Regions from separate parts of the Homo sapiens genome. Here region 2 is linked to region 1. The links come from fine-mapping of genetic effects on gene expression. A gene starts in region 1. The other region holds a variant in brackets. All regions are shown on one strand. Distances are between the middles of the regions.

Region 1 (8,328 bases):
ACAAGGGTCATTGTGACAAGGATTCAGTGACATCTAGCGTGTGTGACTGTACCCAGCACAGTGCCTGGCACACAGTCGAGAGGCTCTCAGTGAAGGTCAGAAACCCATTCCCCAGACATGGTTGTGACTGAGTCCTCAACTTACCCATAAGTGTTAGCCTCTAAGTAGCTAGGGCAGCAGAATAAGGGCTTTGAGGCCAGATGTACAAGTGTGTGAATTGCAGCTCAGCCTCTATGGCTGAACATCTCTGCGAATGGGGTTCCTTACTGGGAAGCTGTCAGTCATCATCACCCCTACTTTGTCAGGATATCGAGGGGTTAAACGAGGTGAGCCTCGTAAAGTGTTTTTACAGTGTCCAGCACGCTCTGGGTGTTCCATAATTGTGTGGGTGTTTTTTTTGGTTTTGTTTTGTTTTTGTTTTTGTTTTGAGACAGTTTTGCTCTTGTTGCCCAGGCTGGAGTGCAGTGGCACGATCTCAGCTCACTGCAACCTCCACCTCCCAGGTTCAAGTGATTCTCCTGCCTCAACCTCCCAAGTAGCTGGGATTTCAGGCACCCGCCACCACACCCAGCAAATTTTTGTATTTTTATTAGAGATGGGGTTTCACCATGTTGGCCAGGCTGGTCTCGAACTCCTGACCTCAGGTCATCCACACACCTCAGCCTCTCAGTGTGTGTGTGTTTTAAGTGACAGGGTCTTGCTGTGTCATCCAGGCTGATAGAGACAGGGTCTTGCTATGTTGCCCAGGCTGGATAATTGTTAAATGAATAAATTCCTTTACACAGCACCTGTCTTAGGGGAATGCTTGATAAAGGATGTCACTTTAGGAGAGACATGTTCAGGGCTGGCCTGCACCCAGGAGTTCCCAGGACCTCTGGACTGGGATCTAGAACTGCCTCTCTAACCTCCTGCTGGGTAGCCTGTTGGGCCTGAATGGGACAGTCTCCACCCCTTCCCAAGCCAACAGATACCCACATCACCTCCACCCTTCCATCCCCAGTCCCTGTGGGAGGTCCTCCGGCGCCCAGGGCTCCTGCACGCTTCCTTTCCCTGGCACCAGGCTGGAGGGCAGGGGAAGGGATGCATCAGCCTGCTCTCCCCAAGCGGGTGTCTCTTGCAGAGTCAGCAGGCTCCGCAGGGAGGGGCTCATAGTGAGCCCAGAGGCCTCTGAGGAACCTCCTCATGGCCTTGAGAACCCCATCTCCAGCTGCTGCCCCTCCCGCTTGACACAGGGCAGTGCCAGATGGCAGGGCCCTGACCCTCCATCTCCAGCATGAGGCTCCTGAGCAGACCTACCCGGGTGCTGGGAAGCATCTCGTCTTGGTGTGTAGCCCCCATTGCACACAGTCCTGGGCGCGGGGTCGTGGAACTGGAAATTAAGGGTGTTGGAGCCACCATTCCGGATCACGGGCACCTGCGGGGAGGGGCCAGGAGCGGCAGCTCAGGGCCCAGCAGGGCGGGAGGGAGGGATGGCTACTAGGCACAGCCCACACCCCTCGGTGACAGTCCCAGGCCCGCCTGACGATTTTGTGGGAAACCAGCGAGGCCCCCCAGAGCTCTCTTCAGCCCTCCCTCCATCCCTTTCATCCTCCTGCCCCCACCTGACCTGCTAGCGTCCCAACCAACTCCGGGCCCGCAGGACACCCTCCTCCCTACTGACTCACTCACCCGTGTCCCCCGGGAGGAAGACCCTATGTGGGACTGGAGGTGGCCAGGGATGAAGTCGTCCAGGCTGAGCCCAGCGCGGAGGCTGCGGGGTGGGCCCTGCATGCTTGGGTCAAGGTGGGAGGACTCCGGGCAAGCCAGCTGCTCCTCTGCGTGTCCTCTGTGGGGAAGGAGGAAGGAAGGGAAAGCCCTGCTAGGCTAGGCTGCCCATGCCCTCTTGGCTCGACCCTGGGATAGGGGAGGAGGGGCCGGCTGTGGGAGGGGGTCAGGACCAGCTGGGTACTAGCTCAAGGACCCAGGAAACAGGCCACGCCAGGCACCCGCCTGCAGGCTGCCCGTGCCTGCCGGCTCCCAGGGGCACAATGGACCACTTGTTAGGCCCAGGGCAGGAGCTCCGGGTGGGAGTGGGGGAGGGGGAGCTTGGGTGAGGAGGAGGGGAGGGGCTGGCCAGGAGCCCGTGGGGCTCTCCCTGCACGGGTGCAGCTGGCTTCCCCACTCCCCCGGAGGGAAGGCGCAGGGGAAGTGGGGCAGCCGGCAGAGAGGGGGCCTGGGAACACAGGACTTTGTTTCAGTTCCCTCTGCCTCCCCCAGGCCGTGTGGGCATCTCTTGCCTGCGGGCACAAGGGATTACTCAGCCACCCGCCCACTGCCCTCCAGGAAGCAGTCAGCAGGGCCTTAAGCCCAATAGGGCCAAGGGGAGCGTCGGGGGCATTTCCAGGCAGCAAGACCCACTCTTGCGAGCTCACAGGGAGCATCGGGCCCTTCTTTGGCCTCCTTCACAGAATGAGGACTCAGAGGGCTCCGGGTGGGTGGAGACAGAAGCGGTGGGTGAGGGCAGAGCTGAACCTGCTCATGCCCATGGAGAGTTGGTGCTGAGTGCCCTGGGGTGTTCTGCATGTGGGCAAATGTGCACGCACATACACGCGCTCCCTGGCTCCACTTTCTCCCGCCCCTCCAGGCTGTTTTGTGAGTGCAGGGTCTTCCCTGGCAGCACCATGCCTGCCCACAGCCAGCTTCTTCTGCCTCATCCCAAGGCTGGGGAAGGGGAAGGGAGCCCTAGGCACCCAGGGAATGGAGGGGCAAGAGGGGAGCCCAGAGTGGGGGTGCAAGAGGACAAAAAGGGGCTCCCAGTTTGGGGTGTCCAAGGGGGCTTTTTGACCCAGAGCACGGTGCTACGGCGTCCATCCCTCCGCGTCTTGGCTGCTGGACTGGACCAGAAACAGCCAAGCTCTGCCACTGCCCAGGACTGGATGGAATCAGGTTTGCCTGTGCCTGTGGGGTCCTTGGGGGCTCTCAGGGAGGGCTGCAAATGCATCGGGAGGAGCTGTGTGTATGTGTGTGTTGGAATCTGGGTGCAGAGCTGCGAATATGACTTCTGGGGGGACCACCGGAGGGACCACATGAGCTGCATGGGGGTTGTGGGTACAGAGGGGTGTCAGCTGAACAGTGGTGGGAGGTGCAGTCATGTGAGCAGTGGAAGAGTTGGGGGCCCAGAGGGGATGAAGGTAGAATAAGGCTGGGATGACTCAGCCCCTGGACCCAGCTCCTGCCCAGGGCTAGCGAGGGTGTAGCCAAGGCTGGGGGCAGCTCCTTGTCTCTGGTTTGAGTTTGTGGGGACTCCTGACATTTGAGTTGCTGCGACACAGCTCTTCTGTGCCCATGCCTGACTGGGGGGAGTGGAGGGCTGAGGCTGGAGGAGGAGCAGCTCCCCAGCTGGGTCCAATTAGGACTCCCACCAAAGCAAAACAGGCAGACACACCCCAGTCCCCACACTCCACCTCCCCTTGCGGGGGGGAGTTGAGGCAGGGTGGGGTGGAAGGTCAGGAGACCTGGAGCTGGTCGGCTCCTCGCAGCACCCCTCCCTGCCCAGCTGACTGCTTCGGGCCAAATTGCAGCTCAGCAGCTGCCGCCTGGGCCATCAGCTGACAGCGCCTTCCTTCCCTGACCTCCCCGCCCACCTCGTGCTCGGTGAGAACTGCTCTCTTGGAGGATGGGTAGGGCAGGAGGTCCCCCACGACCCGTAGTCAGAGGTTGCTTACCCTTGGTGCCCCCATCTGCCCCTTCTCAACCCTGCCCCTTGTGTCGCCCCCCACCACAGGAACCTCCAGGGAAGGGTGGTCCGAGTCCTTCTCTTGGCAGCCAGGTCAGGAGACTTAGGGAGGACTTACAAGGAAGAGGGCAGCATCTGGGGACTGGTCCCCCATGTAGCAGAGAGCGGAGGGGTCCTCCCAGAATTCAGACCTCCCCTCCAGGCAGGCAGCCAGCCCCGGGAGCGGGGAGAGGCCCCTGGAGCGGGAGAGGGGAGGCGGCTCTGCTGGGGTGGGCACTGGCCTCCCTGCTCTGAACACTGCCCTGACCTTGGGTGCCTGGCCCTAAGAGCTTTCCCAGGTATTTCTCAGCGACAAGGCCACGTGGACAAGGACAGCTTTTCTTGAATTTCGCTTTTTCTGGTATGAGGGCTGGTGGGAGGTACTTCCCAGAGTTTGGGACGCGGACCCCGGGGAGGGGCTAGGTGCGATTCCCTGGGGTTGGGCACGGATCCCTCCCGCCGGCCTCGCCTACTCCCCGCCCCTCCTTGCCCGGACCTACCTTCCCCGGCGAGCAGGTGGCTGGGCCCGAGGCCGCCCGGGAGCGCAGGAGCATCCCTGCCCGGCTGCTGCCTGGCGCGGGCGCTCGAGGAGGAAGGGCAAGGAGAAGCGCGGGCCGTCGCGGCCCTCGTGACCGGGTCAGGACGGGCCGGGCCGGGCCGGGCGCCGGCGCAGGAAGAGGGAGGCCGAAGGGGCGCGCGCCGGAGGCCGGACCGTGAGAGTCGCGCGGCGGGGCGGGCGGAGTTTGGGTCTCGGATCTGGACTGCGGGCCGGGGCTGGGCCGGAGAGGAGGGACGTGCGAGTGCTCTCCGTCCGTCGGGGCGCGCGCGGGGACACTGGTGGCCCCCTGCCGAGGAGGCCTGGCCGGCGGGGAGGCGGCGCCGGGAGGGGCCGCCGAGGGTCCCCGGGGAGCCCTCTCTGGTTTCCCAGCTGCCATCCCGGCCCCTACCGCAGGGCTGGCGTCGGGGAGGGGTCGGGCGGCCCGACACGGGCCACTCAGAGTTTCCAGCGACATTTCCAGAGTGTGGGAAGCGAGCGGCCTCGCAGCGGAGCCAGGACAGGGGCAGGAGCGATGAACCGGGCGGAGCCAGGACAAGGGGGCAGGAGTGGTGAACTGGGCAAGCCGGGAGAGACGGACAGGCCGGGAGCGAGATGAGGGCGCCCCGCAGGCAGAGTGGCGGAGCGGACCAGGGGAAGGCCCCGCCGCCCCTCCGCGCTGGGGGAGAGGGTGTGCCTGCGGCGGCGCGCGGCCGGTCGTGTGCAAACAAACACGCGCGCGTACACTGCAAACGTGGGGACGCTCACACACGTGCAAGCACAGGGAGGAAATCAGCCCAAGGGAGCGGCCCCCCCGGGCGTGCCGCGCCCCTAAAGAGGATAAGGGTGGGGTCCCTTTGGCGGGGATGGGATTAGGAGGGTCTTGGTGTTCCCAGACACTGTGTTTGTTTTGATCTGCCTGCTTTTCCGCTGTTCTCGCTGCTCTGAGCTGGGTCCCCAGAGCCCCGGCCCTTCCGGCTCCCCATCCATTCTGGTCATCCCCTCTCCCTGTCTCTGCCCCAAGCCTCTGTATGGCACTTCAGAAAGTGGGAATGCTTAAGGAACATTGAAGGACCGTGGAAACACTCTGGAATCCTTTCTGGCCCTTGAGTTGGCTCAGGGATCCCCAAGCCCCAAACCAGCCAACCAACCAACAGTTACTGATCAACTTTAGCTACGAGCTGGGAGTGATCAATGCTAAATTATGAAAACTAACGTAATCTCCTGCATTCCTACTGGGTGTCAGACTGGTGCCAGAGGCCACGAGGAGTTTTGGAGTGTTTTCCAAGCTCACCACTCAACTCAAAGTTTGGAAAGAAAGAGAGTAGAGAAAAGACTAAGTGATTTTCAGTCCCTACCACCATTACTGCTTTAGTCTTATCTTCTCCCTCGTTCTGGTAAAGAAGCTCTCCCCGTTGCCTTGAAACATCACATGTGAAAGCTGGAGGAGATGTTTGGGTTGAGAAGCTTCAGATAGGCCTGCTGGCCTCTAGCGCCTGCGGGGCTGCCATGTGGACACACAGCTGCACCAGCAGCAGTGGGACCACTGGGGGACACGTCATAGGGAAGCAGGTCCAAGGCTTCCCAGGACAAATTTTTACATGATTCCAGGGGTTCTGAGTCTGCCAGTTGTGGGGCATCTATGTAAAGGCAACTGTTGCACTGAGCGGGGAGCTGAACAAGATGACCTTGAAGACTCCTTCCAAGAACCTCTGACTCTCCAGGAAGGCGGAGAGATGGGGATGGCAGGGGCATTGCTGTGGAGGACAGCTGAGCAGTGGGGGAACCCTGGGACACTTCTTGAGGGACGCAGCAGTGCACTGCCCCCCAACCTGAAGCTTAGAAACCTTCTTATCCACGCCAGGTAGCCTCTTCCCTCCCTCAGGGATAAAATAGGTGCCCATTTTCTTAGACACGCATTTTTCCCACCTGTCAGGGTCCTTGGGACTAAGAAGGACCACATCGCTTTCACTTTCTTCCTTCTTCTCCCAAGATGGTGAAGCTGAAGCTCTTCCGACTCCAGGAATCCTGGCCATACCCCCTCACCAGCAGCAAGCTTCTCTTATTCTCTAGGGCTCTGACCTGGACTCCAAGATAAATATTTAGTGTAGAGGGTGCAGCAGAGCTGACAAAGTTCCCCACTTCCTGTTTCTCACAAAGGGAGGTGGCAGCCATGGGTAAGGAGCTGGGGACTGGCTACCAGTTTCATCTCTATGGGAATCGGGCGTTGAGTAAACAGCTTTGCAGGAGGAGGCGGGGTAGGTCTACGGGAGACCTGAGCTTTCTTCCTGAGCCGCTTTGACTTCTGCCTGTCTACTTAGGCCTGGGCTCTGCCGGGTTTATCACCTCTCTCAGGTCAGAATCCACCATGTTCCGTGGTGCCCATCTGGCCTCACAGCCGAGAGGATGGGAGACAGTGGGCCACAGGGCAGGGAAAACATAAGGAAATTTGACTGATTCCTCCCTTTCTGCCCTTATCTAAAGAGAAGAATTCCTTCTCTTTGAAAAGTAGATTAAGGGGGGAAAAGTAGCAGGGTTTGGAGATTGAGCCAGGAACCAGGTGTCTGATTTCCCGACGCCTCCCTCTAGCGTCAGCTCCCCTTGCTGCCTCCACAGCTGGCACGGTTAGGGAGAGGCTGAGGCTGGGAAGATTGTCCTAGATAAGGCGGCTGGCCGGCTGGCTGTCAACAACAGAACAGATTCCTTTCCTTTCCAAATCCCACTGCACTCTCTCCTTTGCATGCACGACTCCCCTGTCTAAGAGGGGCCTCCCTCCCTGCAAGTCGCGGCTTCCCCACCTCTGGCACTGCCCTTTGTCAGGGGCTGCCTCTGCCTTCTCAGAGCCACCTGAGCCACAGTAAACACAGTTACATAACTGCCCTGTTTTCCCAGCTACCTGATCCCAGGCATCAGTATTCCCCGCTCAAGCCCTTGAGGCTGCACCTTTTGTTCTGTGGGTAGTCCCCAACATCACCGTCAACAGGGGTCTGTCCACAACCCCCACCCCCCTGCAGGGGAGGATTAGCCACGGGACTACCAGTAAATGTGGCTCTTCACAGGGAGGGGGAGAAGGCGGTGGAATGCGGGTCACTCTGAAAAGCAATCTCTGTCACCAAGGATGACAAATGAGGGGAAAGAGCACTGAAGTGAAGGCGGGGTGAGCGGGGTGGGCAGAGCACCCAGTTTTAGTTCTCAAGTGGGAAAAGGGAAGCCAGGGGTCCCAGAAGACATGAACCCGGACTCAGTTCTTGAGGAGCGCCTTGCTCTGGTGCTGGGAATCGGCAATTCAGATGAGTCACCCTCTGAGATCTACCCTGGGCAGCTAGGCGGCCCTAGCTCTGTGCCTCAGTACCCCCATGGAGATACAGGGCATCTGCTCTTCCTTTCTTCTCCTCCCCAGGGATGAACTTCAGGTGCTTTGAGTAGATTTTTTGGGGGGTTTTGCTCTCAGAATTCTGAGTGTTTTCTTCCTTCCTCTAAGCTGAGCAGTCAGACCAGAAGGGGTTAGCGCAGAAAGCACTGCCCGTTTCCAGCAGTTTGGACTTCTCTAGAAGGCCACAGTGACACAATGGTGAGGAATTGAAACCAAGTCACATGGACATACCAGCAGGAATCTGGACTATGTTTCATGCCCTGGGCTCCATCCCTTTCTCCTGGGTCCTCTGTTGATTCCTGCTCCTGCAAATGTTGCCAGCCAAGTTCTACTGATGGCCCTTTCCATGCCAACCACTCATGGGAACAGGAGCAGGCAGAAGAAGGGAGTGCAAATGACCCATTTTGGGGCTTCAAAGGGCCTCCTATGCTGACAATGGCATGACGTGGCTCATCTGGAATTCAAGATTTCTGGTAGAGTCACTGTAGAGTGAGGGATCTGAGTGAAAAAATACCCAGTACAGGTCAAGTATGATGGGTATTGGGGCCTGACAGCCAGGATGGGTGCATGGAACCCCATAGGAATAGCGAATTAGGCTCTCAGGCTTGCCTGGCACAGACCTTTCCATAGCACACGCATGATGTATAATGGGCATCTATTCTGGGT
Region 2 (8,328 bases), 27 kb after region 1:
ACCGAGGCAGGCAGACCACTTTGAGCTCAGGAGTTCCAGACTAGCCTGGGCAACATGGCGAAACCCCATCTATACTAAAAATACAAAAATTAGCTGGTCATGGTGGCACGCGCCTATAATCCCAGCTACTCGTGAGGCTAAGGCAGGAGAATCGCTTGAACTCGGGAGGTGAAGGTTGCAGTGAGCAGAGATCGCGCCACTGCACTCCAGCCTGGGTGACAGAACAACACTCTGTCTCAAAAAAAGGATAGAAGATATGAATTGACAAGTCACAAAAGAGAGATAAACATTGCCAACAAACACAAGAAAAAATTGTCCATTAGTCTCATAAAAATATAAACTAAAAATTTAATTAAAAACTTAGTAACACCAGACTATAACAAGTATCATAAACAGTATTGGAGACAGCACTGTGACTATGCATCCTGCAAAATGTAAAGTGGTACAGCCTTTCTAGAGGCTGTATCAGAAATTTCTATCTGTATCAGAATTGTAATTTTAAGTACTAATTGACACAGATATTCAATTTCTACAAATTCATCCTATGGAAATAATCAAGAAGTGTTATTCCTGATTTTCTAATATTGCTTTACTTCCTTTCATCTGACATATTTATTTACTGTTTTTCCTCCCTACACTAGCAAATAAGCTTATTGAGAGCAAGGACCTAAACAATACAGTACTTGGTATATATCAAGCATGTAATAAATATTGGTTAAGAGAATGTGCACATTTTTATCTAAACAAATGTTCAAAACTATATGGGTTTTGTCGGCAAAAACTTGGGAAAAACTCCAATAACCAACACCACCGGGATTAGTTACAACACTGATCAACATGGACAACTACAGATCCATTAGAAACTAGTCTACAAAGAAACTCCACAAAAATAGTGTACTACAGAGGAAAGCTATGTGCAAAGATAAAAGACAATTAACACAGTATACATTAAGATGTTAACTGTGGATATCTATAAGATGATGGGATTATGGGTGACTTTTTTTCCTTATTTATGGTTTCTCGTATTTTTCAAATTTTATTTTTCTACAATGAACTAACTTTATTTTTAATAAGACAAAGAAAATCATTCAAAATAAACTAAAACAACTAAAACCAAAACCAAACCTCTTTCTAGTTTTAGTTCAAAGGAGGAAAAGTTTACCTTCTGCTTCATCATCAGAAATCAGTTCGTCATCAGAGCATATGTTGAGCACATTTACCAGCATCTCTGTGACTAAGTAAGACAAAATAATCCAAAATTTACGCGATTAATGAGGTACTTTCTCTAAAATAATGTGGATATCTAAATAAACACACATGTTAAGTAAGCATAAGCAAAAATTATTTATCATTATGTTAGTAAGAATAGCTATAAAAAGTAGCATAAATGTAAACTTTCAGGTTTAAAAAGAATTTGGGTAGATTACTTGCTCCAGTAAAAGTCTGGAGTCTTTGAAGATCTATTGCCTAATTACTTGATTTTACCGGATTGCTGTTCAGAGCTTCTTCCCACACTGATACACACGTGAGAAAATTTTTTTCCCACTTTACAAAGTTAAGCCAACAGGCCTACGTCCAACAGGCTTAGCTAATTTGAGTAGCTGTACAAATAAAATTGTAAGGACAATAAATTCTGTTTAAATCTCTTCAGTACTGAAGAAATCTGAGGGAATGACAAGTAACTATGTTATTTTAACATCTTGATCATAGTAGGTCAGCTACTTTAAATTGATATTTACAATAAAAAAACCATAATATATTAAAATTTAAGAACCAATTACATGCCATTTACAAATCTATGTAGAGGCTGGGCACGGTGGCTCACACCTGTAATCCCAGCACTTTGGGAGGCTGAGGAGGGCGGATCACTTAAGGTCAGGAGTTTGAGACCAGCCTGGCCAATATGGTGAAACCCTGTCTCTACTAAAATGCAAAAATTAGCCGGGTGCAGTGGCACGTGCCTATAATCCCAGCTCCTCAGAAGGCTGAGGCAGGAGAATTGCTTGAACCTGGGAGGCGGAGGTTGTAGTTAGCTGAGATCGTGCCACTGCACTCCAGCCTGGGTGACAGAGCGAGACTCCATCTCAGAAAAAAAAAAAAAAAATCTATGTAGAGAACAAACAAAATTAGAAAACATTTCTGAATCATGGAGGGGCTCATGCAAATATAAGGTATGCTCAGTCACCAAACAACTGATGAGACATGTGCTTTAGTTCTCTTACCTTTTTCCCCAACAAAAGGCAAAGACCATGTGAAAACATCCATAAAGTTTGGAAGCCAGTAGGGGTGTGGAGAACAGTTAAACTGCCTGATATTCATGACATTGTTTTCATATTTCAACACAGCAGCTAAAAAGGAAAAAAGCAAGAAAATCTGGCACAGAGGAACATGGCATGGCAAGTGGTATGCTTTGTACAGCTGTGTACCTGCTACACAGAATTCGAGAACTTTCCATTTGTAAAGTCAGGACTTGACTAGGTAAAGGGCAGATGGAAAATTTTAAAGCCTTTTATTCAGTTCATTCTCTTAAGAATTATTCCAAGGAACAAAGTTACCTGAAGAGCTCATATAATAAAAGTACAAAAGAAACTGAAACTTTGGAGTCACTGCACAGTAACTATCTATATAAACCTCAAGATCCACGTGAGGAAAATTTCCCCATAATTTCCTTTTATAGGCCAAATGGTTATAATTACAACTCTCCTTTGAAGGCAAAAATTACTCATTAAATGGACACAGCCTGTTTTGCTAGTCATTAGCCAGAGTCAAAGATTGTATACACTCTCTGGGAGTTTATATATTGCAGTTATCAACTCATACTGGAAGATACAAATGGCAAACTTGGAGCAATTTACAATTAAATGTTCAAAATTAGATTAAGTCATCTCTGTATTCAATATAGCGGATTTTAAAATTGCCGATTTCTCCAATACACAGCAGTGTATTGCCAGCATGCTATGTTTAATATTAACCATTCAGATAGTCGCACACATACTTTGATGCCAAACTGATTTTCTTTATATTTTGAAAGTCTTAAAATCCAATTCCTTAGCCTTTATCACCAGCAATGTTGTTTGCACTATTCTCTTAATTATTCTGTGGTCATAAAATAAAACAGGGTGTAACAGTTCTCCAGAAATGACAGATATAGGTCACGTCCTCATTCCTGTTTCTTTGCTACAGGATAATCTAGTGTTCTTAAAATTTAAGTTATTGAATGTCTAAAATGTACACCATATATTATTAAGAAAATAAATTAAAATATAGTTTCTAGCACTTAAAAAGCCTAACACTGGCTATGATGTACATGTTCCATTATTTTCACGTGTATGTATTTTATTTAGTTTAGGTAAATATGTCATATATCATTATTCAACAACTCCCTCAATTTCTACCCAGGAAAAAGAAGTGGGAGGTGAGTCTCAACAGTGAATGACTGGAAACAAGAGCTTATAAAACTGCTTTTGGGTGTGTTCCCAGTGGACAGAAGAAAACAAGAATAAGAATCTTTAAAAATCATGATTAAAGGTCTTTCGTGTAACTAGTGGAACTAGGAAATACCTGTAGATACCAAGAAGTCTAAAGAATATGAAAGAGCACTCCTAGCACTTTGGGAGGCCGAGGTGGGCAGATTGCCTGAGCTCAGGAGATTGAGACCAGCCTGGGCAACATGGTAAAACCCCGTCTCTACTAAAATAAAAAAAATTAGCCAGGCGTGGCGACGTGCACCTGTAGTCCCAGCTACTCGGGAGGCTGAGGCGGGAGAATTGCTTGAACCCGGGAGGCAGAGGTTGTAGTGAGCCAAGACCGCACCACTGCACTCCAGCCTGGGCAACACAGTGAGACTCTGTCTCTGAAAAAAAAAAAATAATATGAAAGAGGCCAGGTGTGGTGGCACACACTTGTAATACCAGCACTTTGGGAGGCCGAGGCAGGAGGACTGCTTAAGCTCAGGAGTTTGAGACCAGTCTGGGCAACATAACGAGACCCTATCTCTATAAAAAATATTTTAAAATTAGCCAGGTGTAGCGGCATGCACCTGTGGTCCCAGCTAGTTGGGAGGCTGAGGTGGGAGGATCACTTGAGCCCAGGAAGTCGAGGCTGCAGTGAATCAAGTTCCTGCCACTGTGCTCCAACCTAAGTGACAGAGACCGAGAGAAAGAGAGAGAGAGAGAAAGA[AAGAGAGAG/G]AGAGAGAGGGAGAGAAAGAAAGAAAGAAAGAAAGAAAGAAAGAAAGAAAGAAAGAAAGAAGAAAAGGAAGCAGAAAGAAAAAGAAAGAAAAGAAAGAGAGAGAGAAAGAGAGAGAAAAGAAAAGAGAGAAAGAGAAAGAAGAGCAACAGTAGAAGAAAAGGAAGAAGAAAAAGAATAATAGAGTTCCCTTTTTCAGAAAAGAAGGCACTTGTATGGGGAGTAACTGAGTACCCCCAGGGACTGTTTCAAATGCCACATTTTCTGCCTTTTTCCTTCTAAAATGCCTAAGAAACAACCAATGAAAATAAGACTGTTTTGAGATAAAAGTTACTAATTATGTCAAAGCCGACAGAATACTCAGGTAGAATGAACTGTGGCTTTTACTTTTTTTTTTATTTTTTAGAGACAGGGTCTTGCTCTATTGCCTGGCTGGAATGCAGTGGTGTGATCACAGCTCACTGCAGCCTCGAACTACTGGACTCAAAGGATCCTACTGCCTCAGCCTCCTGAGTAGCTAGGACTATAGGCATGCTCCACCTTGCCTGGCTAACTTTTAAATTTTTCTTTGTAAAGATGGGGTCACATTTTGCTGCCCAGGCTGGTCTTGAATTCTAGGCCTCAAGTGATCCTCCCCTTGGCCTCCCAAAGTGCTGAGATTACAGGCATGAGCCACTGTGCCTGGCCAGGACTGTGATGTTAAAAGTTTGCTAAAGAAATAATCAAGAACAAAACCAGGTTAGATTGAGACAAAAAACAAGCTAGCAGTGAGTGAGCTGTATAGTGCCTGCTGACTTAGGTGGCGTGTTTCAGCTTGGCACACTGATAAATCCATTGAGCAATCAATAGATACTCTTTTTGATGAAGTTAAAAAAGAAAGTGAGAAAGAAACACCTTCATTACAAATAGGAGATCTAGGGCCACAAGAGTCCTTGAAGACGTTTAACAACACAAACAGTCCACACCATTGATAAGAGAATAAATAAGAATAAAACCTAAGTTGCTAATATACTGGAAATATCAGGAAAAAGGAAATAACAAATGAACTTAGGGAGAAGCAGAGCATTGTAGGACAGATAAGGCTCAGAGAAGAATGCTAAGTTAAATGAAAACATAAGACTAGGACAGAACTTAAGTTAAAGACATGCTTTTTAAAATAGACAAGTCACTGGAGGACACACTAAAATGACTGACCCAAATCGGATTTAAATGAGATGTGCCATTCCATGGTTTACTTTTAAATAGAGTAAATATTAATTATATTTTGGCCATCTTTGAAACTTATCTCCCCAACTGCATATACAAGGTATAACTATAAAGTAATGAGACTTAAGAAACCACCAGCTACAAACACACCAGACCTTTTTATCAGATGAGTGTGGTCCTTTGATATTATCACATCAGGTACAATAACAGTAAAATCTGTATTATTATAGTAATTTATATTTTGAACAACACTTTAATATCCATTTTCCTTATTCCAACTTATCTTCAACAACCCCATATGACAGATATTTTAAAGATGAGGCTCAGAGAAGTATCTTGTTAAATGTGACACACTTAAAAGTGAAGCAGGACTAGACTGACTCCTTGCTTTGTGTTCTTTTCAGCACAACTTGTTGCCTTACCATATAATTAATCCAGAGATGCTGCCATTACTCAAAACGTTTTTGGAACTCCTCTTTTGGAAGTGCCTCCAGAGCCACTGTATCAGCAACACGAGAAAAACCAGTCTCATTACCTTATAATCATACCTTGTTTCTGACCCCAAATGGTATCATCTAGCTTGATCACTCACCTTATTTATCAGTCTTGACTCCGAATGACTTTTGGCTGTCCAAAAATCAAATCCACCCTCAAAGGACGAAGATTTCCCATCATTGAGGATAATCAAAAGAATGTGTCGCAGACTCTGAAGGCAATGCCAAAAGAGGAGTTCCAAAAATGTTTTTGAACAAGGACAGCATTGTTGGAATAGGTGTGTAGCCTCCCAAGGTAACTACTTTGAAGGGACAATACTCATTTGGATATGTTTGTTCTGGCATGTTTATTTTCAAAGTCCTATTAATTTATAGTCATACTTTATAAACAACAAAATAGTTACAGAAATATGAAGTTTTTAGTAGGACCACTGCCTCGATAGAAAACTTATAAACTATTAATCATAAAAGTTTTAAATTAAAAAAAAGACTTTAACAGGATAAAGTCTTAGAAGTAAAATTTCTGGAACAAAAGGCATGTATATATCCATTCTTCTTTTTTCATATGGGAAACTGAAGATTAGAAAGATAATGTGACTCACTCAAAGTCACAGTATTCGTTTCTGGCAGGGTTTAAACTAAAAATGAAGGTTTTTTTTTGACTTTGTACACTAGGTCACTCTACCTAGACCATATCTCAAGAAAAACAAAAATAGTTTAATAATTCACAAAGATTAAAATACCAATGGTGACTTTGAGATACTGTTATAAACACATTAAATTCACCAAAACCAATAATTTATGCTAACTATTCTGGCATGAGCCTGAAGCAATTTATTCTTCTTATACTTTGATTCTGTAGTATCAATCTGACCTATTATGATCATTATTTATACTCACAAAGAAGCCAGTAATCCTTAGGAGATAAAGACCAAGCAGCAGCATAAATTCTAAATTTCTTGGCCTTTGTTTCAACTAAGACCCCTTTTTTTCTTATTTAAAATTTATGTTTTAAAATGACACAAACACACATACGTACATACAATTAAACCAGAGCTCACGTTTACTCATAAATTCAAACTCAAATATTGCTGGATTCCTTTACCTTTATTGTTATAGACATCTAGGTAATTGGGGGCAGAGAAAATTGTAATAAGTGATGGAAAGCCTGTGGCTTGGCTCTTCCTGTACATTCGATACCTGAAAAAGAGATGAAAGTCCATCTGTCTGCATATTAAATGCAAAGACTCTGCAGCGATATTTGGTACAATTTTAATGTAACTTACCCAGCATCTTGGGCTTCATGGGCTCTGATAATTGATAGTAAATTATTGTTCTGCAAAAATTCACAAACTGCAGGGTAACTGGAAAAGAAAATTAGAAAACATAAATCCAGAATTAAAACAATTTTTTTTAATAGGAAGATGGGGAAAAGTCAAGGTGATATTAGCTGATTTTGTTTCAAAACTACAAGTATTACACACTACTGAAATTTTATGAATAGCTTAGTACTCATCATTCTGTTTCTCTATTTCACTAATATACTTCACTACAGATCAAACATGAAAACAATAGATAATCCTACAATAGAAAGAGCTCCTCCATCTCATCTTTTAATTTTTTTGTCTTAATCCATAACAATACAACACCAAAACTTTTATCAGTGTCTTGATATTACAAAGTACAACAGTAGTGTGTGTGTGTGTGTGTGTGTGCGTGTGTGTGTAGTAGATGCTAAAAATTCAACACATACTTTTCTTCAATTGTCAAATTGTTACAGAAATAAAAGAATATACTTACAGCTTCACAGGTAATATAAACACCAAGATAATATTATGCAGGAATACATATATACATATATATGTATATATATAGGTTTGTTTTTTTTTTTGAGACGGAGTCTTGCTCTGTCGCCCAGGCTGGAGTGCAGTGGTGCAATCTCGGCTCACTGCAAGCTTATGCAGGAATATTTTAGGAGCAGATGTAAATATTTTAGCCAACCATATTCTAAAAAAAGATACAATATTCTCATATACTCCTAAAATATTCTTTTCATACTATTACCTCTCTGAATGACAAATACCTGATAGGAAGAACTGGAGTATACAAAATTAACCTGGAATTACTTAGGCATTAATTATTTAGTTTATTTTTAAAATCTTTGTTTCTCATTATGCTCATTAGAACAAATTTACTTTTAAAGTAGGTTGTAGGTGACGTAAGCAAGATAGCAAAAGAGAATGTCCCCAGCCCTGGTCCTCCTACAGAAACAATAGTTTGGAAGCCATCCATGGCCATAAGTGCCATTGTAAGAACCTTAGGATTGAGGTAGGTGGTTATGAAACCTTGGTGGAGCCCAAGACTAGGAAGGGCTGCTTGGAGAAGGCAGGCCCACTGACCTTTCAGCTACAGACCCAGAATCAGCCTGTCCCTTGTAAACCCG

The links. PIP is the estimated chance that this variant, and not a neighbour inherited with it, causes the effect.
Region 2: its variant is fine-mapped to the expression of SORBS3 in whole blood (INTERVAL, PIP 0.92).

What each region holds. Positions count from the first base shown.
Region 1 is chr8:22,547,949-22,556,276 of GRCh38, reverse strand. It overlaps SORBS3 (sorbin and SH3 domain containing 3), which reads right to left and starts at 4,350. Exons shown (of 21, transcript NM_005775.5): 1 at 4,255-4,350; 2 at 1,669-1,825; 3 at 1,297-1,414. The coding sequence starts at 1,770. LOC124901905 (a long non-coding RNA gene) reads left to right here and starts at 2,152. Exons shown (of 2, transcript XR_007060851.1): 1 at 2,152-4,115. RefSeq lists enhancers at 2,251-2,330, 2,444-3,319, 3,463-3,512, 3,320-4,197, 4,421-5,385 and 1 more and silencers at 4,183-4,262, 4,413-4,592, 4,903-5,032.
Region 2 is chr8:22,521,412-22,529,739 of GRCh38, reverse strand. It overlaps PPP3CC (protein phosphatase 3 catalytic subunit gamma), which reads right to left. Exons shown (of 14, transcript NM_005605.5): 7 at 7,172-7,249; 8 at 6,991-7,085; 9 at 2,223-2,348; 10 at 1,163-1,234. All of the region lies in intron 1 of LOC124901905 (a long non-coding RNA gene), which reads left to right. Among named protein-coding and RNA genes, the nearest start is that of SORBS3, 26 kb to the left of the region's middle. The variant AAGAGAGAG/G (reference allele first, on the strand shown) is at 4,180.